Linked DNA regions of Homo sapiens. The protein of the gene in region 3 interacts with the protein of the main gene of each other region in a biochemical or structural test. Each region holds a gene or a part of one and is shown on either strand. Other genes may lie near its edges.

Evidence for each region.
Region 1: the proteins of CLDN18 (region 3) and PDLIM1 interact in a test that uses a peptide from one of them, tested with the Homo sapiens proteins (one large-scale study listed by IntAct).
Region 2: the proteins of CLDN18 (region 3) and ARHGAP21 interact in a test that uses a peptide from one of them, tested with the Homo sapiens proteins (one large-scale study listed by IntAct).
Region 4: the proteins of CLDN18 (region 3) and PDZRN3 interact in a test that uses a peptide from one of them, tested with the Homo sapiens proteins (one large-scale study listed by IntAct).
Region 5: the proteins of CLDN18 (region 3) and FRMPD3 interact in a test that uses a peptide from one of them, tested with the Homo sapiens proteins (one large-scale study listed by IntAct).
Region 6: the proteins of CLDN18 (region 3) and PTPN3 interact in a test that uses a peptide from one of them, tested with the Homo sapiens proteins (one large-scale study listed by IntAct).
Region 7: the proteins of CLDN18 (region 3) and FRMPD2 interact in a test that uses a peptide from one of them, tested with the Homo sapiens proteins (one large-scale study listed by IntAct).

Annotation. Positions count from the first base shown.
Region 1 is NC_000010.11:95,262,947-95,267,239, forward strand, and holds part of PDLIM1 (PDZ and LIM domain protein 1), read right to left. Parts: intron 1,118-4,293; coding exon 918-1,117; intron 1-917. UniProt on the Homo sapiens protein: Cytoskeletal protein that may act as an adapter that brings other proteins (like kinases) to the cytoskeleton. Involved in assembly, disassembly and directioning of stress fibers in fibroblasts.
Region 2 is NC_000010.11:24,619,183-24,623,475, reverse strand, and holds part of ARHGAP21 (rho GTPase-activating protein 21), read left to right. Parts: intron 1-632; exon of another isoform or gene 633-713; coding exon 714-743; intron 744-2,106; coding exon 2,107-4,003; intron 4,004-4,293. UniProt on the Homo sapiens protein: Functions as a GTPase-activating protein (GAP) for RHOA and CDC42. Downstream partner of ARF1 which may control Golgi apparatus structure and function. Also required for CTNNA1 recruitment to adherens junctions.
Region 3 is NC_000003.12:138,030,474-138,034,759, reverse strand, and holds the end of CLDN18 (claudin-18), read right to left. Parts: intron 3,791-4,286; coding exon 3,619-3,790; 3' UTR 1,111-3,618; downstream 1-1,110. UniProt on the Homo sapiens protein: Involved in alveolar fluid homeostasis via regulation of alveolar epithelial tight junction composition and therefore ion transport and solute permeability, potentially via downstream regulation of the actin cytoskeleton organization and beta-2-adrenergic signaling.
Region 4 is NC_000003.12:73,617,649-73,621,941, forward strand, and holds part of PDZRN3 (E3 ubiquitin-protein ligase PDZRN3), read right to left. Parts: intron 1-4,293. UniProt on the Homo sapiens protein: E3 ubiquitin-protein ligase. Plays an important role in regulating the surface level of MUSK on myotubes. Mediates the ubiquitination of MUSK, promoting its endocytosis and lysosomal degradation. Might contribute to terminal myogenic differentiation.
Region 5 is NC_000023.11:107,599,052-107,602,894, reverse strand, and holds part of FRMPD3 (FERM and PDZ domain-containing protein 3), read right to left. Parts: intron 2,593-3,843; coding exon 1-2,592.
Region 6 is NC_000009.12:109,407,649-109,411,941, forward strand, and holds part of PTPN3 (tyrosine-protein phosphatase non-receptor type 3), read right to left. Parts: intron 2,768-4,293; coding exon 2,581-2,767; intron 2,429-2,580; coding exon 2,351-2,428; intron 730-2,350; coding exon 673-729; intron 1-672.
Region 7 is NC_000010.11:48,271,456-48,276,416, forward strand, and holds the start of FRMPD2 (FERM and PDZ domain-containing protein 2), read right to left. Parts: upstream 3,242-4,961; 5' UTR 3,113-3,241; coding exon 3,088-3,112; intron 1-3,087.

The DNA.
Region 1 (4,293 bases), on a different chromosome or scaffold from region 3:
AGCCTGGGCAACACAGTGAGACCCCAATCTCTACAAAAAAAAGTAAAACTTAGCCAAGTGTGGTGGCACACACCTGTAGTACCAGCTACTCAGGAGGCTGAGGTGGGAGGATCACTTGAACCCAGGAGGTCGAGGCTGCAGTGAGCTGTGATCAAACCACTGTACTCCAGCCTGGGTGACAGAGCGAAAGCTTGTCTCAAAAAAAAAAAAAAAAGACTCAAAGGCAGCTGCAGCCAGATGATCTGTGACAGAAGAGGACATGCCTCCTCAGTCCCCAGCAAGGCACTTCCTCAGACACCTCTCCCCTTTCCACCTGCAGCCCTACCTCTCCCCCAGTTAAGCCTGCCTCTGTCCCCAGATCAGAACCTATTCCTAGGACAAGCATTTATATCCTCAGGGACCTCTCTTCTTTCATGACCTCTGGTCCACTCTAGGGAAAAAGCAAACACTGCTTCACCAAAACTATGCAGCATGAAGTATTTCTCCCTTGCTTAGTTCAGATGGTGGACATAAGCACAGGCTACTCTAGATTCCCTCAAACACTCCCCGACTAATAATACTGAAGAATTTCTCGGGAAGCAGCAGGCCTGTCAAGGAAGGACTATGTTCAATTAGAAGATGATGACCACAGAAATCAAAACACAAATAAAAACAGTTCTGGAGGATTAAGTGATTTGTTTGTGCTTAACACAATGCTGGGCATTTTACGTATTAATTCTTACTTTTACAGACACCCTATAAAGCAGGAGGTATTGTCCCCTTTGTGTAGATGAAGAAAATGAACACAGAAGTGTTCTGCTAATGTAGTCATTTTTCTCCCTGGAGTAGTGGCTCTTGCACCTGCCTGGGCAGCCCTGGTCCTGATGTGAAAAGCCCCTCCCAGGAGCGGCTCAGAGGAGGACTCCTGGGCTACTTACGGTCTGCTGTTCGCCTCCACCCCGCTGGCAGCAGTCTTTGACTCCAGGGCATTGTTGAAGTTGGAGATATTTTCAGAAGAGTAGAGGCCAGCTGGGTTGTTGTACTGGTTTGTGATGACCCTGGCAGTAGTGCTGGAGGCAGGCGAGGCGGTAAAGGGCATGGCACTTCGGTTGTGGGCGCTTCCTATGTGCAGGACCTCCTGCAGGCAGGGATCAGAGGAGAAATCAAGGGGGGCATCCAATGCAAACCCCTTGATGGGCAGTGCAGGCTGAGCGCCAGGGAGAGGTGTTCCAGCTGCTAAGATGGCCCTAGTTCAACCCAAACTTTAGCTGAGGGACACTGACACACCCACTGAGACACACGGGCAATGACTGGGGAAGTTTCCCACAATGGGCACCTGTGCGAGTTCACACCCCCTGAATCATCTCTACCTTCTGATTCTTCCTTGAGGCCCAGCAAAGCCTGCCCTCTAAGGCACCCTCGGGCAGGACAGCCCTTGATGCTTTGGGCTGTAAGATTCAAGTCAGAGCTAAAACACGCTTTCAGGGCACATACCAAAGAGATTAAAGCACTAGGTGAAGAGAAATATGCAGTCACTTTGGTCAGTGCAAAAGCAGGAGATGATAAAAGGTGGAGATAAATTCTCCATAAGTGAGCAAGTTAGACAAGCAAGGTAAGAGGGTGTGGTGTCACAGGGGAAGCAGCTGCTGACTAGGCAGAGATGGTCTCAGTCTCCTGCAGAGCAAGGGTAAAGGAAATTAAGGATCTATTGTTTCTTCTGGGAGAAAGACAAGGCTAATCAGATAGAAGGTCGGGGATACCTGTTACAGGGGCGGTACCCAGCAGAGCTGCAGAAAAGGACTTTTGAGTTCCTTGTGTTCTCATTCCCCTCTTTCTGTAATTTGAGAAAGTTCCCTCCACCCCCACCCTAGACTTGTTAAGAGTCAGGTGAATAATTACTACAGCTACAACATCTCAGAGCTCCTTTACAAACCCGCAAAGCCACTTTGGAAATTAACATTCCTGTTTTCTAAAACTACAGCTTTTCTACTTTTTCTTTCCCTCCTGCCAGCATCACAGCTTTTCTGATAGCCCAATCAGCAAGGTCCTTTCTATATGGGTGTCTGGACAACCCATGGCTTCTAGGTGATGCATGCTCTGTGCAGCCAGCTGAACTCAAAATGTGTCTTAGTGTCTGTGTTTTCCAGAAAAATCTTCCTGAACTCTAGTCTCTTTCTTAAAACACCCAGGCCCAGAACAGCTGCCTCCAAAAGAGTTCCTGTCATCTGTTGCACTTCCTTTTTTCTCTCCTTTTTTGTTAAATATTCAAGTCTTTTATGCTTTCTTAAAAAAAAAAAATCATGAAAACTAAAAGCTTTATTGAGTACCTAATTTAAAATAAAAGAAAACAACCTGAAAATATTTTTATGTTTAAGACTTCTCTTTTGGGCCGAGCGTGGTGGCTCACGCCTGTAATCCCAGCACTTTGGGAGGCCGAGGCGGGCGGATCACCTGAGGTCCGGAGTTCAAGACCAGCCTGACCAACATGGAGAAACCTCATCTCTACTAAAAATACAAAAATTAGCCAGACATGGTGGCGCATGCCTGTAATCCCAGCTACTCGGGAGGCTGAGGCAGGAGAATCTCTTGAACCCAGGAGGCAGAGGTTGCGGTGAGCCGAGATTGTACCATTGCACCCCAGCCTGGGCAACGAGAGTGGAACTCTGTCAAAAAAAAAAAAAAAAAAAAAAAAAAAGATTTCTCTTTTGGCTGGGTGCAGTGGCTCACGCCTGTAATCCCAACACTTTGGGAGTCCAAATCAGGAGGATTGCTTGAGCCTAGGAGTTCGAAACCAGCCTGGGCAACATAGTAAGACCCCATCCGTAAAAAAAAGTTAGACAGTCAAGTAGCCTGTAGTCCCAGCTACTTGAGAGGGCTGAGGCAGGAGGATCATGTAAGCCCATGAGATGGAGGATGCAGTGTGCCATATCGTGCCACTGCACATCAGCCTGGGTGACAGAGCTAGACTCTCATCCCTAAAAAAACAAAACAGGCCAGGCACGGTGGCTCATTCCTGTAATCGCAGCACTTTGGAAAGCCAACGCAAGAGGATCACCTGAGTTCAGGAATTCAAGACCAGCCTGGCCAACATGGTGAAACCTCGTTTCTACTAAAATATAAAAATTAGCTAGGCGTGGTGGCACCTGCCTGTAATCCCAGCTACTCAGAGGCTGAGGCAAGAAAATCACTTGAACTCAGGAGGCAGAGGTTGCAGTGAGCCAAGACTGCACCATTGCACTCCAGCCTGGGTGACAGAGCAAGACTCCATCTCACAAATAAAAAATAAAAATAAATAACAAAAAATAAAAAACAACACAAAACTTCAGCAGTTATCAAAGAGTAGTTAAGTAAATTTTATGGCACAGCTACCCAAATAAATAATATATAGTAATTAAAGGCTATGGTCATGAAGACAGAGATTTACAGATGGGTGGCCTGGTACCCTTGCCTACATGTGCCGCAGCCAGGATGGTCATTCTTTCTTCTTCTCTCCATCACCATGGCAATTCCTAGGAGCAGCAGAGGATGCAGAGCCCCAAGGAAGGGTCTTTATTTTTCCGCCTTGGCTCAATTTTTCCCTGCAATTTCCTGTTTGGCAAGGAATACCCCTCTAAGCCCATTTTTCATCTTTAAAATGAAGAAGATAAAGCCTTCTTTACAAGGATTTGTGTGAGTTACTAGAGTGTCAAGTACAGTGCCTGGCTCGTGGCACATATTCAACCAGGGTCTGTTCCCTTCTCCCTCCACCGAAACACATTTCCAATTAGAATGGAAGTCAATGGAAAATTCAGGTTGAAAATTCGGATGATTTCACTTTCTAAAGAATCTTTCAAGAATGCATCTGGTTTGTACATAAAAGGAATATCTCTACCCTCATCTGAATACTGACTGGTCTTTCCAGAAAGCAGGCAGATTCAGGGCTTGCCTTTTAGAAGGGATGATGTAATTGTTTGGGCTTTGTATTTATCAGTCTCCAAGGAAACTCAATAATGAGGAAGTACAAACTAGGTGTGTAACTATGCTGACCTCAGATAAGCTGGGGTGTTGGTTGGCATTACATGAACCAACAGATCTTTTTATTATAGATGAACTCTGCTCTTACTCATTTATCCTCTACTTTAGAATGGCTGGAAGTAAAAGACTGGAAAAATGATGGGTGAGAAGTTTTTCTTACAGTAATAAAGCATTACTAGAATCACAAGAAAAATACAAGGGTTTAAAGTATTTGAGAATTTTTGTAATCTGAAGAGAACTACCTTCAAAAGATTAATACAGGTAACTACAGATTTAAAATGAAAATTCAAATATACTACA
Region 2 (4,293 bases), on a different chromosome or scaffold from region 3:
ATTTTATTTTATATGGCTAGCTTTAATTTGTCACTGCATTCTAGTCTCTGTTCTATAATATTTATTATAGGTTAACAAGAATTACTCTGGAAGTAATATTTTTATGTCTATCCAGTAGTTATTTTTGCAAACTAATACAATAGTACAAAAGGCACAGTGTTGAAAGATCTTAATTTTTGAGTGAAACTTACTTAAAAGAAGTCATTTTCCCCCCTGAATCTTAGTGTAAAGGCAGCTGCAGTCTGCTGACAGCTTGTGGTTATGCTCTGATTTACTGGGGAAGGAGGAGGTTGTACTATTTTAAATGCATAATAGAGCATTCGTTTCGTCATCTGGAAGCAGAGATGGAAGAAGCTGGGGGGAAATGAGAGACATCACTGTTGCTTTCGTGGAGGGAAGCTTTGTAGCATGTTATCAGACAGCAGTGCATATTGAAGAAAATATCTGTTAGGAATGCATGTCACCAGATGTATTTTGCTTTCAAGAATGGTAGACACATCAAACAAGAATCAGATAAAAGCCTGAGAAAAAGATGTTCAGAAGAATACTGGAGTTATTCTTTATGCTTCACTGCCCTTTACCTCTCTTGGTACCTTCCAGAGAAACAAGTATAGATGTATTTTTAGCTTGCCGTTTCCAGCATCAATATGACAACATGATTTTGTCTTTATATCAGTAAGCAGCTTCTACTATGTTTTCCTATTTTCTGCTAGCTACAGTTTACAAAGGATGTCACAGCACTGGTAAGAAATGCACAGTAGCCATTTCCTTGCTTTTTAAGTCATGTTTTGTAGAGATTTGTAATAAGCCAATCTATTAAAAACTGTTCACTTTTGCTTAGAGAAATCCCTCTATCGTGTTAATCTTACTAATTTGCAGAATACGTTTGTGATAGATGGTTTGCCATCCTTATTTTTTATTTTTATGTTTGGTTTTCTTTTGTATCCTGTACATAACTGATGCTACAGCGTAATATTTATCTGCATCAGTATATATATATATATATATATATATATATATATATATATATATATATATATATGTTTTTTAAGTATCTCACCCTCTTCCTGTCACTACTACTTTGCTGTTACGTTTGTGGCTGCACTTGAGCTTTGCAAGCTGTCGAATGCAAAGAGCAGGATGTGATGATAGTCTTGAGTTAAGCTTGTTTTGATTAGGGGAAGATGTGTTACCACATCTGTCTCAGATGCTGAACATAGTCCCTGTGTTGCACTGATGAGCTCTGTTTTGTAAAGTCTCTATAGTTGATTTCTGTTATTCTTAAGGCTTTAAAAATATTGCTGAATAATTTTACAAATAGTTGATAAAAAACTATTTAGGCTGCATGCCTGCCTGTTAGTAATAGAGAAATGTCTCCTTATAATAAGTAAAGGAGACCAAATAAATTTGTATGATATACTTTTGCATTAGCTTAAAATAAAAATATAAATTATATACAGAACGATGAGTTACCTTTTTTCATGTTTTTCTGCCTTTATTATATGTGCTTTATTTCTTAAACTTGCATATTATCTTACTTTAAATATTAAAATACTTAGCATGGCTGCTGAAGGTCTTAATTTGTCAAAATGGATTATTCTTAGGGACTCTGTAATGGTTAATTGACAAGATGCTTCAAATAAATTAGACTTAATTTATTATAGTAGTAGTACTTAAAATGCATTTAAGATTTTTAATATTTTCACCTTTTCTCTGGCAAAATACATGAATCTTCCTTTGCTGGGATTTATTTGGCAGCCATTTAACCTGTCAACTGCTGAAACTCAGAAGGCTTGAATGGGGAGAATTTTAGAAGTAATGTGGGTACATCTAATTGGTTGGGTAGAAATTTGATGAGTTTCACATGTTTTGAGCAAAGAGGTGATTGTAATTTGTATGTGTTGCAGATTCTACAGTTTATTTGATTTCTGAGAGACTAGCTCTTTCTAGATTTGTAGAGTACCCTTATGTTGTGTTTGCATGCATGCTATAGTGAATGTCACTCAGGAACGAGGTAGGACATAGATAAAATAGTGCACTGTAAAAATGGAAATTATTATTCTTTTTATGAATTTCCAGTGACACCTTCCTCTCATTTCTATACAGGCATATTCTCAAGATGCCTACCTGAAAGGCAACGAAGCTTATAGCGGCAATGCCCGCAATATACCTGAACCTCCACCAATCTGCTATCCCTGGCTGCCATCTGCCCCATCAGCCATGGCACAGCCAGTTGAAATATCTCCTCCTGACTCATCATTGAGCAAACAGCAAACCAGTACACCAGTACTGACACAACCTGGTAGGGCCTATAGAATGGAAATACAAGTGCCTCCATCACCAACAGATGTTGCAAAATCAAACACAGCAGTGTGTGTTTGCAATGAAAGTGTAAGGACTGTCATTGTGCCTTCTGAGAAGGTTGTAGATTTGTTATCCAATAGAAACAACCATACAGGTCCTTCACATAGAACTGAAGAAGTGAGGTATGGCGTGAGTGAGCAGACCTCTTTAAAAACAGTGTCAAGAACCACATCACCACCATTATCAATTCCCACCACTCATCTAATTCATCAGCCTGCAGGCTCCAGATCACTGGAACCTTCTGGAATTTTACTTAAGTCTGGAAATTACAGTGGACATTCTGATGGAATCTCAAGCAGCAGATCTCAAGCTGTGGAGGCTCCCTCTGTATCTGTTAATCACTATTCGCCAAATTCCCATCAGCACATAGACTGGAAAAACTATAAAACTTACAAAGAGTATATTGATAACAGACGATTGCACATAGGTTGTCGGACAATACAAGAAAGATTAGATAGTTTAAGAGCAGCATCTCAAAGCACGACAGATTATAACCAGGTCGTCCCCAACCGCACTACTTTGCAGGGACGACGTCGAAGCACCTCTCATGATCGAGTGCCCCAGTCTGTCCAGATACGGCAACGCAGTGTGTCCCAAGAAAGACTGGAAGATTCTGTGCTAATGAAGTATTGTCCAAGAAGTGCATCTCAAGGAGCACTGACGTCTCCATCTGTTAGTTTTAGTAATCATAGAACTCGTTCATGGGATTATATTGAGGGACAGGATGAAACCTTAGAAAATGTCAATTCTGGAACTCCAATACCTGATTCCAATGGAGAGAAAAAACAGACTTACAAGTGGAGTGGGTTTACTGAACAGGATGATAGACGAGGTATTTGTGAAAGACCTAGGCAGCAAGAAATTCATAAATCTTTTCGAGGTTCCAATTTTACTGTGGCTCCAAGCGTTGTTAATTCTGATAACAGGCGAATGAGTGGTAGAGGAGTGGGATCTGTGTCGCAGTTTAAAAAAATTCCACCAGATCTAAAAACATTGCAGTCAAACAGAAATTTTCAGACTACTTGTGGAATGTCACTGCCTCGGGGTATTTCACAAGACAGGTCACCTCTTGTGAAAGTCCGAAGTAATTCTCTGAAAGCTCCTTCCACGCATGTCACAAAACCATCATTTAGCCAGAAATCATTTGTTTCTATCAAAGACCAAAGACCAGTAAATCACTTGCATCAGAACAGTCTGTTGAATCAGCAGACATGGGTAAGGACTGACAGTGCCCCCGATCAGCAAGTGGAGACTGGGAAATCCCCCTCTTTATCTGGAGCCTCTGCCAAGCCTGCCCCTCAGTCGAGTGAAAACGCTGGTACTTCAGATTTAGAACTACCTGTCAGTCAAAGGAATCAAGATTTAAGTTTACAAGAGGCTGAAACTGAGCAATCAGATACTTTAGATAATAAAGAAGCTGTCATCCTAAGGGAAAAACCTCCATCTGGACGCCAGACACCGCAGCCTTTAAGGCATCAGTCTTACATCTTGGCAGTAAATGACCAGGAGACCGGGTCAGACACTACCTGCTGGCTGCCCAATGATGCACGTCGAGAGGTCCACATAAAAAGAATGGAGGAAAGAAAAGCCTCGAGTACCAGTCCGCCTGGCGATTCTTTGGCTTCCATCCCATTTATAGGTGAGCTCATTTAGAGTCATTGGCTAATATGCCAAATGTATAAGAAATCTTTCCAGAAAAGTATTATTTCTAGTTCAATAGGCATAGAAGTCTTACACTGTGATTTTAAAATGTTTCTAGTGAATCTCATAAGCTGTGCTTCAACCAGAGCTTTCACAAACCTCTTTAAAAGTTATTTCTAGTACCAATTTTCCTTTTTTTAAAAAAAAAACAAAAACTTCATGTACCTAGTACCCATTTCAAATTTTTATTTTGATGAAACAAATTCCTGAGATTAAGGAAATCAGCGA
Region 3 (4,286 bases):
CTGAAGCTTTCTCTGGAGTTCAGTTTCATCCAAAAGAAGAAAAAAATGAGGCAAAGCAATGAGTTTACCTGATTTCTAAGGACCCCGGCTCCTCAGAATACAAGTCTTCATGGCATATGACAAATCTCCATGTTTTGACTGGGGGACCCAGGCTTCATCAAACTAGATACCACTGCTCTGGCTATAGGAAGAGGTTTAGGGATGGGTACATTACTCAAATAATCTAATGTATTTTGTTAGGGTTTTTCTCCTATGCATAGAAGGAAAGAGATGCCTCCCTTTGGCTAGGTTTCCCATAGCTGAAACATGGCTTTATGGCTAGAAATATAAGCAGCCAACACAACAACTCACAATCTTCTTGAGAAGCAAACCAACAGAGAAGACAGCAGAACTGAGATATGGGCAGAGAAAAATAGAGTCTTAATCATAACCCTTGATTCAGCTGTGTCTGAAGCCAACCCTGACCTCAGATACCCCAGTTACATAAGCATTGCCCTCTTTGTCTTAAAGTTGTGAAGCTTGGTTTACTGTCACTTAAGTGGGTCCTTTACTTGTATTATTCCATTATTCTTATCATCCCTATTTTACAGATAAGGAAATGGAGACTCAGAAAGTTTAAGGGCTTTGTTCAAGCTAACATAGCTGCAAAGTAGTATGACCTGGATTTGAGGTTGGGTTGTTCTGACTATATAGCTTATGCTGCTTTTGTAGCTTGGATACAGCCTCAGTTTATTGAGCTGGTCAACCCAACCTTGGCAGCATCAAGAGGGCAGGCATTGGCTCTCTTGTTTTACTGGCCCACAAACAGGACAATGACATTAGACACTTCGGGCTTGTGCGCTTAGGGTCAGACAGGCTAAACTGGATCCTTGGACCCCATGCTGCATGCCTGGTTGCTCTGGGAACTCCTCTTCATTAAGGCTTCCCAACTTGCAGAAACCACAAACTGGTCTGGAACGACACCTAGCTCTAGGTAGCTAGGCTGCTGTTGAGCAGAAATGGATTCTGAAAGCAGAAAAACTCCCATGAAGAAGCATCCAGCGTTGAGGTGCTGGGACTTCCCACCTCCACTTCCCAAAACATATGAAAAAAGAGCAGAAGCTATTCAACTGTAGGATAACAGTGTTTTTAATATTTAAGTAACAAAACATTCAGGTTAATACTCAATGCATATACAATAAGATAGAGCAACAACAACAAAATTACAAAGCACAATCTAACTATATGGAGGCTTTCAAACAATTAAATGTTGGATAGAGAATGCGCTAATTAAAAACCCAGCTGAGCCACACCGCACTACCTGAGACCTGACCAGGGACTTTCTGGTGGTAGAAGGGAGAGCTCATTGTGCCCTGTGGCCTTCAACTCAAATGGATGCTCTTCAACTCAAATCCAGAGAGCACTTAACAAACTCCATGCTCTAGATTGCTCAACCCTCCTCCTTGCTTTTCTTTTTTCTTTAGTTGACTTGTCTGCTCATCCTTTACCCAAACTGAGGCAGTGAGTTCCACAAATACTTCCTCTGGTTTGGTTTAAATGTTGCTGTCTCAGTGAGAAGGGCCTCTGAGCTCACTGCTCTGACTCTTGAACACAACTTGTTATTTAATGGGGCATAATCCGTTCTTTCCCCAGACATAGTCTGTTCAGCCTGAAGATCCTTATGAGTATTCACCAATCCCCTTGGAGGTCACTTTCATATGTACTATTGATGTGAGGACTTTCCTCTCAAATAATAACCTAATGGCCAAGTTCCCCTGCACCAATGCTGCTGTGGGTAGTTTTTAGAGACTGCTCTTACCTCAGTTTCCTAGGGGGCCTATCTGGCTTTGGTACTGGGATGGAATTCTACTGTCTTGGAAGGAATTTAGACTTTCTGCTCAAAAGGGCAGTGATGTAAGCTCAGGGAAGGTGTGTGGTTGCAAAGAGCTTTCAGTTTTGCCCAAACATCTGATGGTCCAACCACTCTAGGTGAATTCAGAGAAGTGAACAGCTCTCAGAGTAACAAAACTGACCACCAGCTAGTTGTGATGGCGCACACCTGTAATTCCAGCTACTTGGGAGGCCAGGGTAGAAGAATTGCTTGAGTGCAGGAGTTTGAGGCCAGCCTGGAAAGTGAGACCCCGTCTCTAAACAAAGCAAAACAAAACAAAACCGACCACAGTGCCAGGAAAGTGCTACTGCTAACTGGCAGTGGCTTGTAACCATGCAAATGTGGATACCTGTCACTTGGAAACATTACATTTAATTCAGGCTCAACTTTTTTTTTTTTTTAAAGAATTAGTTTTAACCTACTTCCTAGGACTTGCTGTGTTCCATTATTTATTTTTTATTTTTTTAGACAGGATCTCGCTATGTCACCTGGCTGGAGTGCAGTGGTGTGATCATGGCTCACTGCAGCCCCAACCTCCCTGGGCTCAAGTGATCCTCCCACCTCAGCCTCCCGGAATGCTGGGACTACAGGTGTAGGCCACCATGACTGGCTGATTTTTTCTCTCTGTATTTTGTAGAGACAGGGCTTCTCCATGTTGCCCAGGCTAGTCTCGAACTTCTGGGCTCAAGTGATCCTTCCTCCTCAGCCTCCCAAAGTGCTAGGATTACAGGCGTGAGCCACTGTGCCCAGACATTATTTACTTTTTACATGGCTTACACTTACTATCATGTACAATCAGAGCCATAGAGACCTCAAAGGGAAAGAATTAGGATCAGTGAGCTTTTCATGGAATTTGTACTTAAGCATGACTTTACAAAGTACCATATAGACAATGTCAAAGCAATTATTTTTTCATTTCCTTCTATCCACATGTAGGGGTGAGGCTATTTCACAGAGATAGTGTATCATTTTACTAAAACATTATTTATTTTAACTATATTTAGGACTTAAATTAAAAAAAATAATTTTCTCATTCATCTAGGGACAATTTCTGACCCGCGACAGAAAGAGGACTCCAGTGGAGAGCTCAGGAAACTCCTAGAATGGTGTTGCTGTAATAAGAAGATGTCAACAGCAGTAGAAAGGTTTGGTTGCCTCAAACTGAAAATGACTTTGGTTTGGTAACTTTTAAGATCACAGTGTAAGAAAACCGAGATCATGGGCTGGAGAGATTACAAATATCTTTCTCTTATTGCTTCTTCTTCAGTAAGTGTTTATTACTAGCCAAGTTGGGGGTGGGGAGACAAAATTCAAACAGCAGAAAATAACATCTTTGGGTCTACTCTTTCCTTTCAAAAGTTTTCTTGGGGATAAGCTGGGAAATAGATCATCAATGGGTTTATTGACTAGGAGGAAGAGGGGGAGTCTGTCTAAATCATCAAAATGTGAGAGAGAGATTAAAACCACATTCTCTCATCAGAGTAGAAAGTTATATTTAAAAAAAGAAATAGAGGATTGAAAATGTGAGCTATAGCCTCTAATTCATAAATAACTCAGCTGTTTTATGGTGGAATATTTAGAGACAGAGACTGAGGCTAAGACCATTTGGCCTCTCCAAAGATGAAATCGAGGCTTTTCTAACTTCCAGCTGTGAGTCAAAAGCAAGAAGAAATCTAGATGGGATCTCCTTGTTTTTTGGGTGAGCTCTCCGGGAGTTTCTTCCGCCCGTGCTGAGAGGTCTTAGAGCATTACACATAGTCGTGCTTGGAAGGATAAGATTGTACCTCGTCCTCTGTGCGGGCACCTCCATCGTATATCTTCTTGTTTTTGGTGTTGGACCCAAAGCCAGTGCTGGCCTTGAAGCCTCCAGGCTTGTAGGCAACACTGTGGCCTGAGGCATGATAAGAAACGGCTTTGTAGCTGAAAGAAAAATAAACATTCCATGATTGTAGATGTCTTTGTTAGTAGGACCAACCTCCTATTTACCATAAACTGTCTCAGTCTTGGCACTGAAAGTCCAGTGTCCCTGGAAACCCATCAGTCCGGGGCAAACCAGGATAGTTAGTAACCTTAGTTTTTGGTACACTGGTTTTACTGCCTCTGCAGTGGAACAGAAGTTCTTGCACTGTTTTAGAGCTTTGCTGAGCCGAGAACAAAATCTCCTGAGAATAAAATAATTGTGATTCCAAATGGACATTTTTGGATGGTGGAGAGAGGTATCCCCAAATCCTCGGTAACTAATGAGTTCCCTCTTTCAATCAATAAAAATACAGCTGAACCAGAAACAATGTCCAGGGGAACATTGTTACGTCAAAGGATCATAGAATTTGTGAGCTGGAGGGTACCTACGTTCAGCCCATTGCCTCAAGCTGCTCATTTCATGGATGAGGTGATAGAGGCACAGAGAGGGCAAACA
Region 4 (4,293 bases), about 64 Mb from region 3:
AAAATTAAAGAGCTGTTCTCATATTCCATCCAGGACATCATCTCTTTTTTGTCTAAATCTATTTTTTTTTTTAACAGGGTCTCACTCTGTTGCCCAGGCTGGAGTGCACTGGCACGATCTGGTCTTGGCTCGCAGCAACCTCTGCCTCCAGAGTTCAAGCAATTCTCCTGCCTCAGCCTCCCCAGTAGCTGGGACTACAGGTGTGCACCAGCACACCTGGCTAATTTTTGTATTTTTAGCAGAGACTGGGTTTCACCATGTTGGCCAGACTGATCTCAAACTCCTGACCTCAAGTGATCTTTCCGGCTAGGCCTCCCAAACTGCTGAGATTACAGGCGTGAGCCACCATGCCCAGCCTAAATCTCTTTCACAGCCAGGATCTGTTTTGTTTTGTACTCCATGTGCTCTACACTGGACCTATGTAAATGGGAACATGGTATGGGATGAAAACATTTCATGGACCAGAAGCCAACAGGCAAACTAACATGAGCCAGTGGAGGACACTTGGCAAGTTATTTAACTTTCTGAGCTTCTGTTTTTTCATCTGTAAAATGGAAGGAAAGAGTCATGGGTAAGAGCACCGACCTTGCAGGGTCTTTCTGAGGATGAAATAAAATAATGCATGTACACCTCCAATCCAAACAGTACTTGGCATACATAATAATGGTGCTTTGAAAGCCTGTGTGAGACTTCAGAGAAGGGCACCGCCCCAGGAAAAAATTCTTTTCTTATTTTGGTAACAGTGTGAGCTCGGAGATGGGCCACACTGGGTTCAAATCCCAGCTCTACATTTAGAATCTAACTTCTAGCCTTAATCTTTCATAATCTGCTACTCCCATTAAAAAAAGAGGTCTATCTAATGAAGAACATGGAGAAGATAATGTATGCACATACAGAAAGCACCTTAAGTGTATGGCACCCAGTGGAACTCAATGAATATTATTTTCTTTTCTTTTAAGCTCCTTGGTCTACGGTCCAATGCATAATTGCCTTATAAATAGATTCTTACTCATCAAATATTTTTATAGCGAGGCAAGCACCATTTCTGAACACAGAAAGAGCCACTTACAGACAAATCTCAACAGAATTGCCAATTCAAATTGTCTGGTTATACTCATTTAATCCAGTGTAGCTGGGTAACATATTTGTAAAACAAATCCTAATTTTCCTTATAAATCACAGAAATGAAATAGAAGTGACAATCTGTAACTTTTTTTTAGCAGAAGTGCGCTGTTTTGTTAGATATACTATGGAATGGCCCTGTGCAGGAGCTTTTCAGAAACAAAATATACTTCATGGTGAATACTCTAACAGATACATTTCAAAGTGTTTGGACATCTGGAACACCTTTTGATACAATTGTCTATCAGATTTACTTATTTCCAGTTCTGAAAAGGACAAAATAGTTTCTAGGATTTGGGGCTTTATAAAACTTGATCTGGGTGGATCTAGTGGAACAAAAATAATGCCTCCCCTAAACCTGAAAACAATTTTGTTAACTGGGTCATCACGGAGAAACTCATTCTTTTTAAACACGAGCCCACTTTTGGTTAGCAACCTGAAAAGTTTTGATGACTGCCAAGACAGGCCTTTCAATCTTGAACTCATCACCAAATGAATACATATCAAGAGCTTACAGTGCACATGGCAATGGATTAGTGCCACAGACATGGTACTGGACAAGACAGACTCTTCCACTTATTTAGTTACAGCTATGATAAATGCCATGCAGGAGGATAACCAAAGTAAGAGTCTCAGGGCACCAGATGTAGTCTGCGAGGTCCGAGAGGCCTGGCTTCCTAGAGGTAGTGATGCTTCAGCTGAGATGAGAATAGAAAGAACCATTGTCTAGTGATAAGCAAATCCTAAGTGCAGACAGAAAGGCTGTGGGCAAGAGGAGAGAAGTGGAAATTTTGCAGGTTATTTAGTGCAGAGTACTTGGTAAGATTGTTCCAGGTAGACAGAAGAGCAAGTGCAAAGGCCTGGAGGCAGAGAGGAGCTCAGGGGCACATGCATCGACTCTCAGAGACATGAGAAGCTGAAAGAAGAGGATGAAGGGGAGAAGAATCCAGGCAGGTGGAAGCCGGTAGGATCCAGAGCATGTTGGACCTTATAGCCAACCAAGAGAAATGGGACAGCATAGGAGGCTTGAGGGAGAGTGATAAAAGATACACATTTATAAGAGATTAATTCCTGATGCTAGGTAAAGAAGGAATTGAAGAGGAGCAAGAAGATTTGTAGAGGAAAGAGTTATGGTCCAGGCAAGAGTGTCTGAGACAAAGGCCAATTTTGCCCCTCAAGGGACGTTTGGCAATGTCCACAAATACTGTTGATACTACTTGGAAAGCGCTACTAGCCTCTAGTAGGTAGGTAGGTAGATGCCCGGGATGTTGCTAAACATCCTACAATGCACAGGTCAGCCTCCCACCCCCATCACCACTACCACCACCACCAACAACACACCCACACCCAAGAATTATCCATTCCAAAATGTTGGCAGTGCTGATTCAGAAACTCTGGTTTGGACCACGGTGGTCATTTGAGTGAGCTGGAGAGCTGTGAATAGATTCAAAATGTATTTAGGAGGTAAAATCCGCAGGATTCAAAGACAGACCGGATGGGAGGTTAAAGAACAAAAGGTATCGAGGATGTATCTCAAGTTTTTCAATCAATCCAAGGAAAGTTATGTCCAGAATTGTTCCTTTCCCAGAAAGAAAAGCAAAAAAGATGTTTGCTCTGGAGTGCTTTTGCTCTAAGAATCAGGGGGTAAGTCAGGATGGGAAACTGAGGCTGGGAGCAGAACTCTTTAACTCACTCAAGTGTAGCAATCCCAAGTCTGCTGCAGCTCAGATGTGGCCTCAGTGAGATCAGAGATGCCTGTCTAGGCTATGATTACCTGTCATTTAACTGCTAGGCAGTCTGGGTTTTTTTTGTTTTTTTTTTTTTGAGACGGAGTCTTGCTCTTTCACCCAGGCCGGAGTGCAGTGGCACTATCTCCGCTTACTGCAAGCTCCGCTTCCCAGGTTCACGCCATTCTCCTGCCTCAGCCTCCCGAGTAGCTGGGACTACAGGTGCCCGCCACCGCGCCCAGCTAATTTTTTGTATTTTTAGTAGAGACGGGGTTTCACCGTGTTAGCCAGGATGGTCTCGATCTCCTGATCTCGTGATCCGCCTGCCTCGGCCTCCCAAAGTGCTGGGATTACAGGCGTGAGCCACTGAGCCCGGCCTAGGCAGTCTGGGTTTTAAAATTTTATCCTGGTCTTAAGAAATTTAGGAAGGTGTTTAGACAATGACCAGTGAAACCATAACTGTGTGAAGACCAATACATGTTTGGTCTATATCTACCTGAGCGTAAGCTCTTCGTCTAGCTTAGCGGCTACTTAAAGGACCAGCATCATCTGGGAGCTCATTGGAAATGCAGAATATCAGGCCCCTGGCCAGCCCTAATGGATCAGAATCTCTAGGGGTGAGACTGAGGAATCTGTGTTAAGCTCTCCAGTGACTCCAATCACGCTAAGGCTTGAGAATCCTTAATATAGCTCACATGGTAGAACAGAAGAGACAACGTCTATGCTGGTACAGCACTAACAAACCCTAAGCGTTCAGCAGGTGTCAAAAAAACTGAAACCTAAGATAATTTAAAGAATGCCACATCATTTGTGCAAGTTCTAGGCTGCTGAAGAGCTGGTACTGAAAATCTGAGTGTTTCTAATCTCCTTCAGCTTATAACAGAGAAGCAAACATTAGGGCTTATTTTAAAAAGAAAATAAAAATGTTGCACATGAGAGTTTCCAGGACATATAAATCCTTCTGCCTTTTAGAAGAGAATAAACAGTACCCAGCAGGAGCAGAGAGCCGGCCCAATGAAATAAACAAGTTCTTAAACAGCTTCCAATGGGAGGAGTTTTATGGTTGACCCAGGAACAGCAAAAGCGTTCAGTAAGGGCCACTGAGGGTTAATTTCGGGGCAAGGAGAGACAGCAAGCTTCCCTAAGGCCTCAGCTGAGGCCAGGCTGGGTCTGAGGCCAGGGAAACTATCTAGGGCAGCTTCTGGGCCAGACCATCCTTTGCTGTTCTCAAGGCTGGCACTGAGGTTGGTAAAAGTTCCAAGCAGGGCTCCAACACCGGAACAAACCTTTCTCCGTAAGTTCAAAATCAACATCTTGTCTCTAAGCTTAACATCCTTCTTTATGCTACCCACTAACTCAACAGAGCCTCAAAAACATCCACAGTTTTGATTCAAGTATCATATTTTTGACTCTGAGGGAGATTTTACCCAAACACTCCAGAAAG
Region 5 (3,843 bases), on a different chromosome or scaffold from region 3:
GCTTGGGGGCACGGGCCTCGGGGCTGGCCACACACTGCCGCAGGACTGTCAGCAGCTCGTTGGTGTCCAGCCGGGCAGCCAGGAAGCCATCAGGGAGGCCATAGGCATGGGCCCGCAGGGCATTGATCTTGGCCAGGCTCCCCTCGAAGGTGGACACACGGAGGTCAATCTCCTGAGTGCGGGAGGCCTCAGGGCTGCTGCTGCTGCAGGTAGCAGCATCCAGCACCTGCAGGGTCCTGCTCACCACAGGCACCACCTGCTCGTCCAGCTTCATGCCAGGCAGGATCTTCATGGGGATAGAGTAGGAGAGCTCATCCTTGCCATCACTGGCATCATCTGCCATGTCACACTTGCGGTAGTAGAAGCAGTAGCGGATGGAGCAGCACTTGCTGCTCTCACTGTCCTCGTCTAGCTCGGCAGGCTTCCGGTACACCTCCTCGGGCAGTGAGAACACGGCCATCTGTCTGGGGCCTTTGGTCTCTGGGGCAACCTGGACGTAGGAGGGGTCTCCCAGCGTCGGTGACTCCAGAGACCTGCTTTTGGGACCCAAGGCTATGGGGAGGCTTGCCTCTACCTCCTTGGCCTCCCTGGGCAGCATGCCCAGGGGAGGATGTGGGTAGACATCCGAGGTCAGCGAGGCCCTGTCACCCTGGTCCAGCTCACTGATACTGTAGCGGCGCATCAGTTTCCTGTAATTGGGAGCTCCCAGACACTCGCCCCCCGAGGCACACGTGGTCAGGCACGAAACACCACTCTCAGGGTCCGATCGGCACTCTCGGGACTCCAGGCTGGTAGAACGAATGCGCTGGACATTGATGGGGCTGCTGAGGCTCACGCCTGGGCCAGCCTCTGGCTGCCTCTGGCTAGGGAGGACTCTGTCCCTTTCCCTCCCCCGGAGGCTGGGCACTGGTGTCTGGGTGGCTTGTGGCCGGCCCCCCCGGCAGATGCGCTTGCAGTCACAGCTGCGCCTCTGCTCACGGGACATGCCAGGCCCCTGCTGCACAGGGCTGCTGCGGAGCTGGCAGCTGCAGCGGCCAGGTGCTGGAGGTTGCAGGTACTCGGTGCCTGGCAGCTCCCCCTGGCTTGGTGGCTTTAGAAGTTCCTCAAGGAACTCCAGTTCATACTGCTTTACCTTCTGCAGTTGGGCCTGCCGCTCATCTGTCTCCTTCTTCTGGCGGGTTGGGAAGGTGGCAGAGAATAAATTGCGTAGCCGGAAAGGACCTCGGGATGACTTGGGTTTGGCAGGGCCTTCAGAGGTCGAGTGGGCTCCATTGAGAGTTGTTTCAAGCTTCCTAGAGGGCATGGTGCTCACCTGCCGGCTGGCAGCCTGAGACCTCAGTGGGCTCTGGCCTCGAGGTTGGCAGCTGGGGCTCTGACCTCGAGACTGGCTGCTGGGGCTGTGGCCATGAGGCTGGCAGCTGGGGCTGTGGCTTCTTGACTGGCAGCTGGGGCTCTGCAGAGCCATGGGGTAGGTAGCTCGGGGAACCAGGCTGGTCTCTTCGAGCTTGCTTCTTTTGGGTGTGCTCTCCAGCTGCGCCTTCTCCCCTTGGCTGGAGATGGTGCCCTGCTTCTGCAGGGTGGGCTTACCACCCACTGGCCCGCCTTTGCCTGCCACCTCCCCTGTAGCTTGCTTGCCCACTGACTCTCGGCTTGTTCGCAAAAGATAGCTTTTGGGAGGGAAATTTTGAACAGGCAGACTGTCCTCTTGTTGGGAGAGGTGCAGGCTGTCAGCCCGGCTGCCTGTGGGTGCTCTGGGGCTGGAAGAGACCTCTGCACCCAGCTGATGTTGAGAATTCCATGAGGTCTCTGGAGCACTGGGGCTAATTTTGAACTTCAGATTCTTACTGGCACTGCTGCTCATCATGCTAACCTCTGGCCTCCCCATGCTGGCCTCCAGCCTTCTCTCACCCCTGCTGGGGGGGTTCCCCAAAGCCCCACCAGCAGTGACTAGACTCTTATTGTGAACCACTTGCTGTAGGGCGGCCGAGATGATGGCAGGGGTCACACTGCTCTTTGGGTCGAGGATAAGCTTGGGGCTCAACCTGACCTCCTTGGGCAGGTTGTCCCTCAGCTCAGAGACCTGCTCTTCACTGAGGGATGATGTGGCTGCCCTCAGTGACATTTCTAGGCCTGCCCTAGTGTGGCCAGGCCCTTTGTCCTCAGGAACTGGGGACAGCAGACTCAGATTCTTCTGTTCACTAAGCTGTGGGGACAGTGCTGGGTGCACTGCCAAGGAGTATGTTCGTTCTCCCTGTACCTGGCCCTCTGACTGGGGCAGCTTCCTCCGAGCGCCAGGGGGGCCAGGACTCTGGCCTGTGGCAATGGGTTGGAGAGATGGGTTGGGATCCGGGCGCCCAAGAGAGTAAGGGGCCGTAAGAACGGCCTGGGCTGCACAGCTCTGGATCCGGAAGGGCAGGTCCTTGCGGGCAAGGAGGCTGTCCTTGTTGAGGTGCTGGGCCAGGAAGTAGGTGGTGTTCTGGTGCTGCTTCATGGCCGACATCATCTCTGACATGTCTGTGAGCTCTGAAGAGTTGGTTTCATGACCTGAGTCCAGCGATGATTCAGGAGTGATTGTGGCCAGCACAATCAGACCTGGAGGAACAGGGATAGGGCTTGTTATGCTTACTGAAATCAAGTTCTTTTCCAGCTCTACACGGTTGTCCCTCGGTATTCATGGGCGATTGGCTCTAGGACTCCTGAAGATTCCAAAACTTGCAGATGCTCAAGTCCCTGATACGAAATGGCATAGTATTTGCATGTAACCTATGTACATCTTTCCATGTACTTTAAAGCCTCTCTAGATTACTTATAATACCTCACACAATGTAAATGCTATGTAAATAGTTGTTATACTGTGTTGTTTAGGGAATAATGACAAGAAAAATCTGTACATGTTCAGTATAGACATATTTCTTTTTTTCAAATATTTTTGATCTGCGGTTGGTTGAATCAGTGGATGCAGAACCCTCAGATACAGAGGGCTGACTATATAGGAAGTGCATAGAAGCCAAGGTTAGCCAGCAGTATTTCCAGCTGGAGAAAAACAGACAGGCCTGGCGAGAATGCAGGGCTGAGGGTGGGAAGAGTGGAGGGGAGGGGACAAAGAGGGGCAAGCTATAAGAAGGGGATGAAAGGCCGGAATCCAAAACAGAAACAAAAGAGGTGGCGAGAGGATCTGGGCAGTTTTATGGCAAATTACCATGTGAATCACATGCAAAACAGCATGCTAATCACAACTATTTTTAGATTCAACAGCTAGGAAATTTTTGTTAATTGTCCTAAAGAGGGGCTGGCAAAGAGAGGTCTCTCTCTATCCCTCCTCATCTGGCCAGGCCCGCCTACAGTCATTGCAGCTGAGGCCATTTAGCTGAGCTTGTCCTCTCTCCAGCAGCCACGTGGGACTCAAGCCTGGGAGCAACTAGCACTCTCTCCAGACTCTAAGCAAAGAGAAATGCCAGCCCTGGGGGCCAAATACATGGGGGTTGTCCAATGTCAAGGGTGTCCTCACACATGGAAAAGGCAGGCTCTCTCTGACCCCAATCCCTCGTGGTCCCTATTCCTCCCTATTCCTTTTCTGTTGCTGTGTCATTTACCTCTTCTCTTTCTTTTTTCTTCTTTTTTTTTTTTAGAGTCTCACTCTGTCACCCAGGCTGGAGTGCAGTGGTGCAGTATCGGCTCACTGCGACCTCTGCCTCTCAGGTTCAAGCGATTCTCCTGCCTCAGCCTCCTGAGTAGCTGAGACTACAGGTGTGCACCAGCCCACCCAGTTAATTTTTGTATTTTTAGTAGAGACAGGTTTTCACCATGTTGGCCAGGCTGATCTCGAACTCCTGACCTCAAGTA
Region 6 (4,293 bases), on a different chromosome or scaffold from region 3:
ATTCTCCTGCCTCAGCCTCCTGAGTAGCTGGGATCACACCTGTGTGCCACCACACCCAGATAATTTTTGTATTTTTTGTAGAGATGGGTTTCACCCTGTTGGCCAGGCAGGTTGGTCTCAAACTCCTGGCCTCAAGTGATTCACCCTCCTCGGCCTCCCAAAGTGCTGGGATTACAGGTGTGAGCCACTATGCCTGGCCTAAAAACAATAAAATAAATTTGAAAGAAAAACAAAGCAAATGCTCTTCTTAGGAGGCCTACACAGATGACAAAAGGGGCACTGGTGGAAAGATGGTGAGAAGAGGCACAGGGCCCACGTGCCCACTTAGAGTGAGCAGAACAGCAGACTGCCTAAGTTTCCTTCTCTTGAAAAGGACTTCTCAAAATTGAATGCACACTAACCACTCAAGGCTCTTGTTAAAAATGCAGATTCCGGTTCAGCAGGCCTAAGCTGAGGCCAGAGATGCTGCATTTCTAATGAGGTCCCAGGTAACATGGGTGCTATGGCTTCAAAGACCACACTGAGCCGCAAGGTTATAGAAAACATGGTGATGTATATCTAAGCACATTCTTTGCTCTGGCAAAAAAAGAAACAGGACTCAGAAACAGAAACCTGTTAGAATTAGGGGGAAACAAACAAACACGAGGAATAACATGGAATGTATTTACTTACAGGTGACTCTGGGTTTATCCTTGATACCACAAGAGGCATCTTTTGATCCACTCCTCCCTGTAAACATTTTAAAATAAAAACAAAACAAAGTTTTTTAAGTTAAACAAACAAACAAACAAAAAAACGAGTAGCTCACAGCATCAACAACATGGAGGTACCAATAAATGTGAGTCTTTGGTACAGGGAGGCTTCAAACTTCACTATGACTGATTCGAATCACACGTCATTTCAGAAATATGGAACAAATTCCTGACCCCTCTGGATCCAGCGGGCTGACCAGGACTCTGTTCAGAAGCCTCCCTCTGCCATCCCCACAGTCCATGAACTAACAGATACACTCAGAGAGAAGCTCCTCCTTAAAAACGCAGATGCCCCCAGAGAGGGACTCCACAGCATGTCTTCGAGTGCTGCTAGAACAAACCTGCACGTTGTGCACATGTACCCTAGAACTTATAATAATTAAAAAAAAAAAAAAAATATATATATATATATATATATGGGCTTTATATATATATATGGGCTTTAATATATATATATATGGGCTTTATATATATATATATAGGGGCTTTCAGCAGAGGCGAGCGAGGCCTGGGAAGGGGGCACACCCTGTGAGCGCATCTGGCCTGTGAGCGCTGGTCCTCAACACAGCTGCTGGGGCAGATGAGGCTGTGCATGATGGCAGCTGGGGGGTAGGCGACCACCTGCCCTCACTTTGTCCTAGAGTAGGGATGAGTAAACGTTTTCTGTAAAGGGCCAGAGAGGCTTTGTGGGAGTGAGGGCTCTGATTCAACTGCTCAACTCTGCAGTCATTAACCCACCAGTAAACAAATGGCTGTGGCTGTTACCAAAAAAACTAGTTACAGAAACAGATGGGATTTGGCCTGTGGGTTTAGTTTGCAGATCCTGCTTAAAGGTGCCTGGAGGAGAGTGGTGGCCCTGCAGGTTGAACTTGAATTGTTTTTCTCTTATCAGCTTTAGCAATGCTGAGGGGTTCTCTTAATAGCATTCCTGAAGTGGGTAGATCTGTTTGCCAACTGTGTGCCCTCATTTCTGGGAACCTCAGTATTCATTTGCAAAATGGGTTTAAAAATACTGACCTTACCACTTGTTATCAGAACTTAAGAAGGTGCTATGAATCTAGTGGATAGCCAATGCCAGGCACAGAGCAGGCACTTGGCCTTCGGCAGCTGTTAAGGCCACATTAAAAAAAACCTCTCAATTCTAGGCTGGGTGCGGTGGTTCACGCCTGTAATCCCGGCACTTTGGGAGGCCAAAGTGAGTAGATTGCCAGGTGTTTGAGACCAGCTTGGACAACATGGTGAAACCCCATCTCTACAAAAAATATGAAAAAAATTAGCTGGGTATGGTGGTGCATCCCTATAGTCCCAGCTGAGGTGGGAGGATCACCTGAGCCTGGGGAGGTCAGCGCTGCAGTGAGCTGCGATCGTGCCACTGCACTCTAGGTTTGGGCGATAAAGTGAGTTTTTAAAAAAAAACAAAAAAAACCCCAAATATCTCAAACCAAACAAAAACAAAAAAAACCCCCAACTCTCAATTCTGAGGGTTGAACCAACTTCCTTATGTAGCTCAGGAATGCAGCACATTTGTAATGCAAATTAAAAACTCATTGAAAGATTGCTTCCCAGCACAAAACTTCCTTTATAAATACACAACATACCTTAAGATTAAATCCAAATTTTCCATCTTCATCTGGTGTGATACGGATCAAGACTAAGTAGCTGTCACCATTATCATTCTGGAAAACGGTTTGAAAGTGGTCATTTGCATCACATCTCTCTCCAGCAGTTGGTGATAAGATATTTTCATTTAGTTAGAGCTACTCAGCTGCCCACAAGAGGCCGGGAAGCCCTGGGTGTGTGGATCACCCGGCTGCCTGCGCTCGCTCACCTTGTCACAGTAGTACTGGCTGGCGTCCTCGGTGGAGCCCCCTTTGGTCACCCTGTGGAAGTCATCTAAGAGCTGCTGATCAACGCCGTCAGGTGAGCAGGAGCCTGGAGCATTTGAAGATGGAGACACAGAACTGGATGACTTCTGGGTCAGGTAGCTTTGTGCCGGATTGTTCTCGGATAAACTCCTTCATCATGGGGAAGGAGGAGATATTAATAACTGGGTTAATATTTTATTAGAGCAAACACTACTGACTGTAGGGGCCTGGCAGCTGGGGGCTGTATGTTTCCCTGGAACCTCAGCTGCATAGGTTGTCAGCGGGATTTGAGTACACCCAGGGCCCACTGACCACCCCTGACCGCATCTGGCCTAGACACTGTCACATGGTTTTGGGGAAAAGGGATAGGAGGCAGGGTGGATCTGGAAACTGCTGAAAACTTTGCTCCCTTCCCCGCTGCTTTAGAAGGGTGACAGGGAAATGTGTCCAGCTCCTCTGGTGGTTTCATTACTGAACCAGGCTCTGCCAGGCAAGCTCATGCAGATGCACAGCCCATCCCTTCTGAAAGCTTTTTTCCTTCTGTCTCACTTCTGCGGATGGTTCTGCTTCATAGGACTCTTGCCTCCTCAAAGGAAACAGGACTGTTGTTGTTGTGCGTTCAGGAGAATTTATATTATTCCTAGTTGGCATGATTTGCCTGTGACATCCATGAACTGCCACGCTGAGATCTTGTTACATTTTCCTCTATCGAATATAGTTTCTTCTGTATCGTGGAGCTGCACTGTCTAGTATGGTAGCCACTAGTTATATGTGGCTACTTAAATTTAAATAAATTAAGACAAGAAACCAGCCATACTTCACATGCTCACTAGCCATATGCGGCCAGTGGCTCCCGTATGAGACAGTGCAGTCAGAGAACATTTCACCACGGCAGGAAGTCCTGCTGGACAGCGCTGTCTTAGAGAGTTACAGATGATGAAAACGGAACAGAACTTTGTGGTCATTTGTTCTAACTCCCAGTTCACAGATGAAGAAGCTGAGGTCAGGAGAGGCTGAGTAACTTGCCCAGGGTCACATGGCTTTCCCCCGGCTTAGCAGACAGAAACCTGACCGATGTGCGTCCTAAGCCTTTCTTCCCTCTCCAGACCATGCAGAGCCCACTTCCAAGACCCCTATTTCTAACCCCTCAGAGTCACAGGGATTAACCATCCCTGCTGTCACTGTACAGGACAGGACCCTTGAGTCTCTGCATCACCCACACCAGCCCCTTCCGGAGCCACAGGCCCAGCACAGACACCTTACAGAGCTGATGACTATGGGGCTCTCCTACATTCTAAGACTCTGCCCCACCCTAACCTCATCCAAAGTGAAGTGAGGGGAGAAGCGCAGAGACCAAGTCATTCAGTGAAACCCAGACAAAAGACAGCTGCTACTGCCTCTTTCTTGACCTTCATTTCAAGCCCTTATCCATGGATTTTTTATGAAATTGGTGCTTCTCTTTCTCCTAGTGAGTTTAAATGAGCCTAATTTAAATATAAAATCTGTATCATAGTCACACAGAATGATTCATAATCACAATCTATTTGAATAAAATATTCAGTGACAGACCAATGGAGAAACACAGCGATACAGTAGGACAAGAGTCTGGCCTTATGGTGTCCAAGTGGCTGGTTGGGGGTAGGGTGTTATGGATGGGAAGGCATTTCAGAGACAGA
Region 7 (4,961 bases), on a different chromosome or scaffold from region 3:
TTCTGACAGCTCAGCCTTGATCTGCCTCCTGCCTGGCACCAGCCCTCCTGGAACTGGTTCCTGTGCACCATCCTACACATCTCCTTCCTGCCTCCCTTCACTACCTACTCTATTTCCAACAATGTTGGGCTATGATAGCTCAAGCAAATACAGGAATAAGGAGGCTTACAGCCAAGGCAAGAAAAAAAAAGGGAGGGCAGTTAACAGTAGAGCTGCCAGCGACCAGTAAAAGGAAGCCTGAGGAATAGGAATCAGCCTCGAAAGCAGACTTCTGCCAGGAAAGCAGCTAAAAACACTGATATCTCAGGGTGAATACAATTCAGGAGGGGAATGAGAATAGAAAAGCATAGTGGCTGGAAGAGCAGGCTCCGAGGTCAGAGCTGGATTGATCCCACCTCACCGTGGGCAAGTTACTTCCTCTCTTTACTCGTTTATACCATGAGTTATTGTGTCTGGCATATGGCAGTTTTTCAATAAATCCTAGCTATTCATATTATGAATCCTGAGTATATGGAGAGGGCAGGGAATAGGCTAGAGACAAGCCAGCAAAACTGGGGTTTCAGACCAGAAATGACTTCACTAATGGAGCTGCAGGTAGCATTGTCCTGGGCTGCACACCGCAGCCCTTGCTATTCCTGAGCAGTTGAATTCATAGTCATCTATTCATGGTGTTCTTTTTAATAAGTCCAACATTTTGGTGAGTGACAGCTTCATCCCCAGAGAGAAGGAAGTATTCTTCCTAATTCTTCCTTCGTGCCCCCTTCATTTGCACCCATGAGTCATTTTCTCACCACTCTGTATTCTGCTCCTTAAACCTTTCTTGGATTCTGTGATATGCTGAAGAAGGCTCCTACTGGCCTGTGAGAGCCAATTGTTAAATTTCCAGAAATTTTGTAAGCTGGTCATTAAACACAGCCATTACCAAAAAGTATTATAAAAATCTCCAATTAAATAAGTTATATTAACAATATGTTGAAACTCACCATTTCCAAATTATTTTACTGCATTTTACTGTTGTCTGTGCTTTGGAACTTATTTAAATGAAATACATTTCTATGATGGAAATACTGTGTAATGGTGTGCTGGTGCACAGCCCTTCCACCTTTGTGTTCAGCGATATCACATTGGGAGCTTGTGATTGGCCATGGTGGTAGTATTTATACCACAAAAATTGGCAAAAGCTACAAATTAGGGCTTGGTTTGCTGTTTTTTCATTCCCTAAGAAAACTAAGAAAGTGATGGAGAAAATGTTCATGCAGATTAAACCTAAAAGTGTGTCGCGTCCATAGTTGTTACATTGTGAATAACACAAAAATTGGGAAAACACTCTTCCAAATTCAAAAACTATGATCTGATCCAGCAGTCACTCATGTCATTGACAGATGAGTGAAGTTAAGACAATCATCTTCATTGTTTCACTTTCTTCTTACTTGTCAATGTAAACAAAAATATCAACCAACATTCATATTGGAACTACATTCAGTGGTCAATTGCAAACAGGCTGACCAAGGGTATAAGAGTTCAGCAAAAATCAACAAATGCATGCTGTGAGAATCAAATGGCTATATAGAATTTGTAATAAAGAGTATTTTATATTTTATTACTTGTAAATTGTGCAATATACATCCTTCATATCAGTAAAATTTATAATGAACTTATTAGATGCATATGTATTTGTTTTTGCTCACAGTGCTGGCAGCACCAGCTTGGAGACCTCCCCTTCTCTACATTCCACTGTTGTTTTCTTAGGTTAGGCCATCTGTCATCATTCCAGGTTTCATCCTCTCCAATCCCACACCCATATTGCTACTAGATTAATCTTCTTAATATTAAATGCAGACACGACACATCCTTCATTAAAACTACCAGTGCCTATCTGGGACCTTCTGAGTGAACTCTGGGCCATAGAAGGCCTTCCTTGCTCTCCCCTGTTCACCTCTGCAGCCTCCTTTCTTATCAGATTCCCCTGTTCCCACTTTACTAAAGTTAGGCCAAACTGCCTGCTGTTCCCAGAGCATGCTTTACTTATTCATGCCACTGGGCCTTTGCATGTGCTTTTCTCTGCTTGGGATGCCTTTTCCAATCCCCCTGCTCCCAACTCCTGCTAGTGTTCGCTTAGCATTAAAGCCATGCTCAAGCAACACCTCTCCCAGGAGCCCGTGCCACCTCCATTTCGGCACTTGCTATCACCGCCAGTTTTCATGCAGGTCCAGCATTCTGCCCCCCGACCCCCACTGTCCTACAACCTGGAAGATCCTCTGGGCTGGGGGAGACATCCCCAGCATTTGGCATGTGGCCCCAGGAGATACCAAGTAAGTTCTCGTTGAATTAATGAACTACTTAATTGGTTTCAGCTACAGCCTATAGCAAATCACAGGATTTAGCCAGGAGAAATAGACACGACTCATCTCTGAACTCAATTGTTGCTTTAAAAAAAAAAAAAAGTTGTTTACACTGTTGAAAACCTCAACTGAGTTTTTTCTTTCCTTTAAGCATACAAATAAAGCCAGGTGAATCATTTCTTTTCCATTGTTTTCTGGAAGTCAGCTAGGCATACCCTGAGTCTTCTTACTTTAAACCACTGATACTCTTTAAGCAATAACCAAAACACTTGCTTCTGAAAGATAGTGACAGCCATGATTTACTGGGCTACTCAAATGCTCCAAGTATGTTCTAAGTGCCTTACGCGTGTCACCCCATGAATCCTCAGCAACATCGTAACGCATGGGGCATTATTATCCCCATTTTACAGGTAAGAAAAACGAGTCTTAGGAAAGTTAAAAGAGTCATTTGAATTTGCACAGATGCTGAATAGCAAAGCAGTGATTCAAACAAGGGGTGGTCTGATTCTAAAGTCCATGTTTTCTCTTCTGAGCCCATTCTTTATTGCTAAAAAACAAATACAATGTCTATCAGGCTTAGCCAATGGCCTGGAACAAATAATACTCCAAATAATACCACAAAGGGCACTGACACAGGTCCTTGCCCAGCTGTGTTCTTCTTATTCCGGATACCTAGACCCAGTAAGAAGTTTGCCCTTTCCCTGACCAGATTTATAGGAGAAAACTGAATGATGCCAAGGAATACCTGCGTCCTTCGTTAAAGGCTGCATCCAAAAGTCTCCGTGACCAGGTCTAGGCCTTCATCATGGGACAACTTTCCAACAAGGAGCAGGGGTCTCTTGCAAGTCTGTCCGCGGAGCTCCCTGCCACCAGCACTGTTGCCGCTGTCTTTGTTTACTGCTTGTCACTAAGCACTTGCTGCCCAGCGAGTGAGTCAACAAGGCCCCTTCCCTTTCCTGCCACCACTCTCATTCCCTGGGTCCTGCGCAGTCTCTGGCCTGTTAGCAGGCACTGCCACCCCAGCAGCCTGCGTCCTCAAAGCCAGTGACCCGTGAGAGAGCCAGGAAGAGCTCAAGTGGATTAGGTGCCACTGAAGGCAATGGGATTGCTGCTCAGCAGGGCTTTTACGCTGATGTCTCTTTATCTCCTGGCCCAATCAAAAGAAAGAGCTCTGCAAGGAACTGGGGGCAGCCCCAGAGCAGAGGCTTAGTGTCATCAACTCAAGAGTCCTCCATGCCCTTTCATAGTGTCAGACATTGGACCTGCAACCAACAGGACAGGGAACCATGTGAAAGCAGCAGGAGGAAATGATAACCTGGATCTGTCTGTGAGAAAGCAAGAAAAATGTGGTTAGAGAAAGGGGGAAAGGAATTCTTACTCTTTCTGGTGCTTGGATTCAGAAAGGAACCAGCAGAGATGGGGAACAGCAAGAAGTAGATCATAGCTCTGTAGTAGAAGGGGCAAAAGAACAGATCTCTCAAGCCCTTTAAATCAATAGCAGTGTCAAAACTGAGACGTATTTATTTAAAAAGAAAACATGAGTTTTTGCCTGACTACAGAATAAAATACTAAAATTTGAGGCCGGGCACAGTGGCTCATGCCTGTAATCCCAGCACTTTGGGAGGCCAAGGCGGGCAGATCACGAGGTCAGGAGATCGAGACCATCCTGGCTAACATGGCAAAACCCCGTCTCTACTAAAAATACAAAAAATTAGCTGGGCCTGGAGGCGGGTGCCTGTAGTCCCAGCTACTCCGGAGGCTGAGGCAGAAGAATGGCGTGAACCTGGGAGGCGGAGCTTGCAGTGAGCCAAGATCGGGCCACTGCACTCCAGCCTGGGTGACAGAGCGAGACTCTGTCTCGAAAAAAAAATCTGATGAAACTCAGTGCTGGTGAGGGCATGGAGAATGAGTACTCTCATATGCCAATAGTGAGATTACAGATAAGTGCAACTTCTCTGCAGGGAATTTGGTAATATTCATCAAATTTGTAAATGTACATATCCTTTGTAAACCCAGCTGCTAAGAAGTAACCCCATGGACATTCTTGCAAAAGTTCACCAAAGCATCTGAGAAAGGATGCTCTTTGCAGTGTATTTTGGTAGTAGCAGAAAACTGAAAGCCACTGAAGTGCCCATCAACAGTGATTATTGTAGTTCACACACAGTAGAAAACCAGCTATGCAGCTGTGTAAAGGAAGGAAGTAGATCTGTGTGTGCTGGCATATAACAATTGCCTAGAAAATTCTTTAAGTGACAAAAGGTATGGAATAGCCTAGTATGTTTCCTTTTATTACAAATAGGTACATAAAGACCAGGTATATTTACGTATATTTATGTATACATATTCTTTATACACTGTAGTATATTAGAATATTATGTAGACATATTCTTGTGGTTCTGGAAGGAATCACAAGCAACTTAATAGTGGTTGCTAGGGGAAAGAGTTTTGGCTCATTATTTAGTCAGGAAAATTATTGTTCATTTTGGTATTTTCCCCCTATAACCTTATGTTATATTACTTGAAAAAAACTAAAAAACACAATGTTTTACATTTTTTTCTGCTTAAAGCTATCTATATTGACATTCCCTGCTAGCTAGCAAAACATTTCACAATATCTGC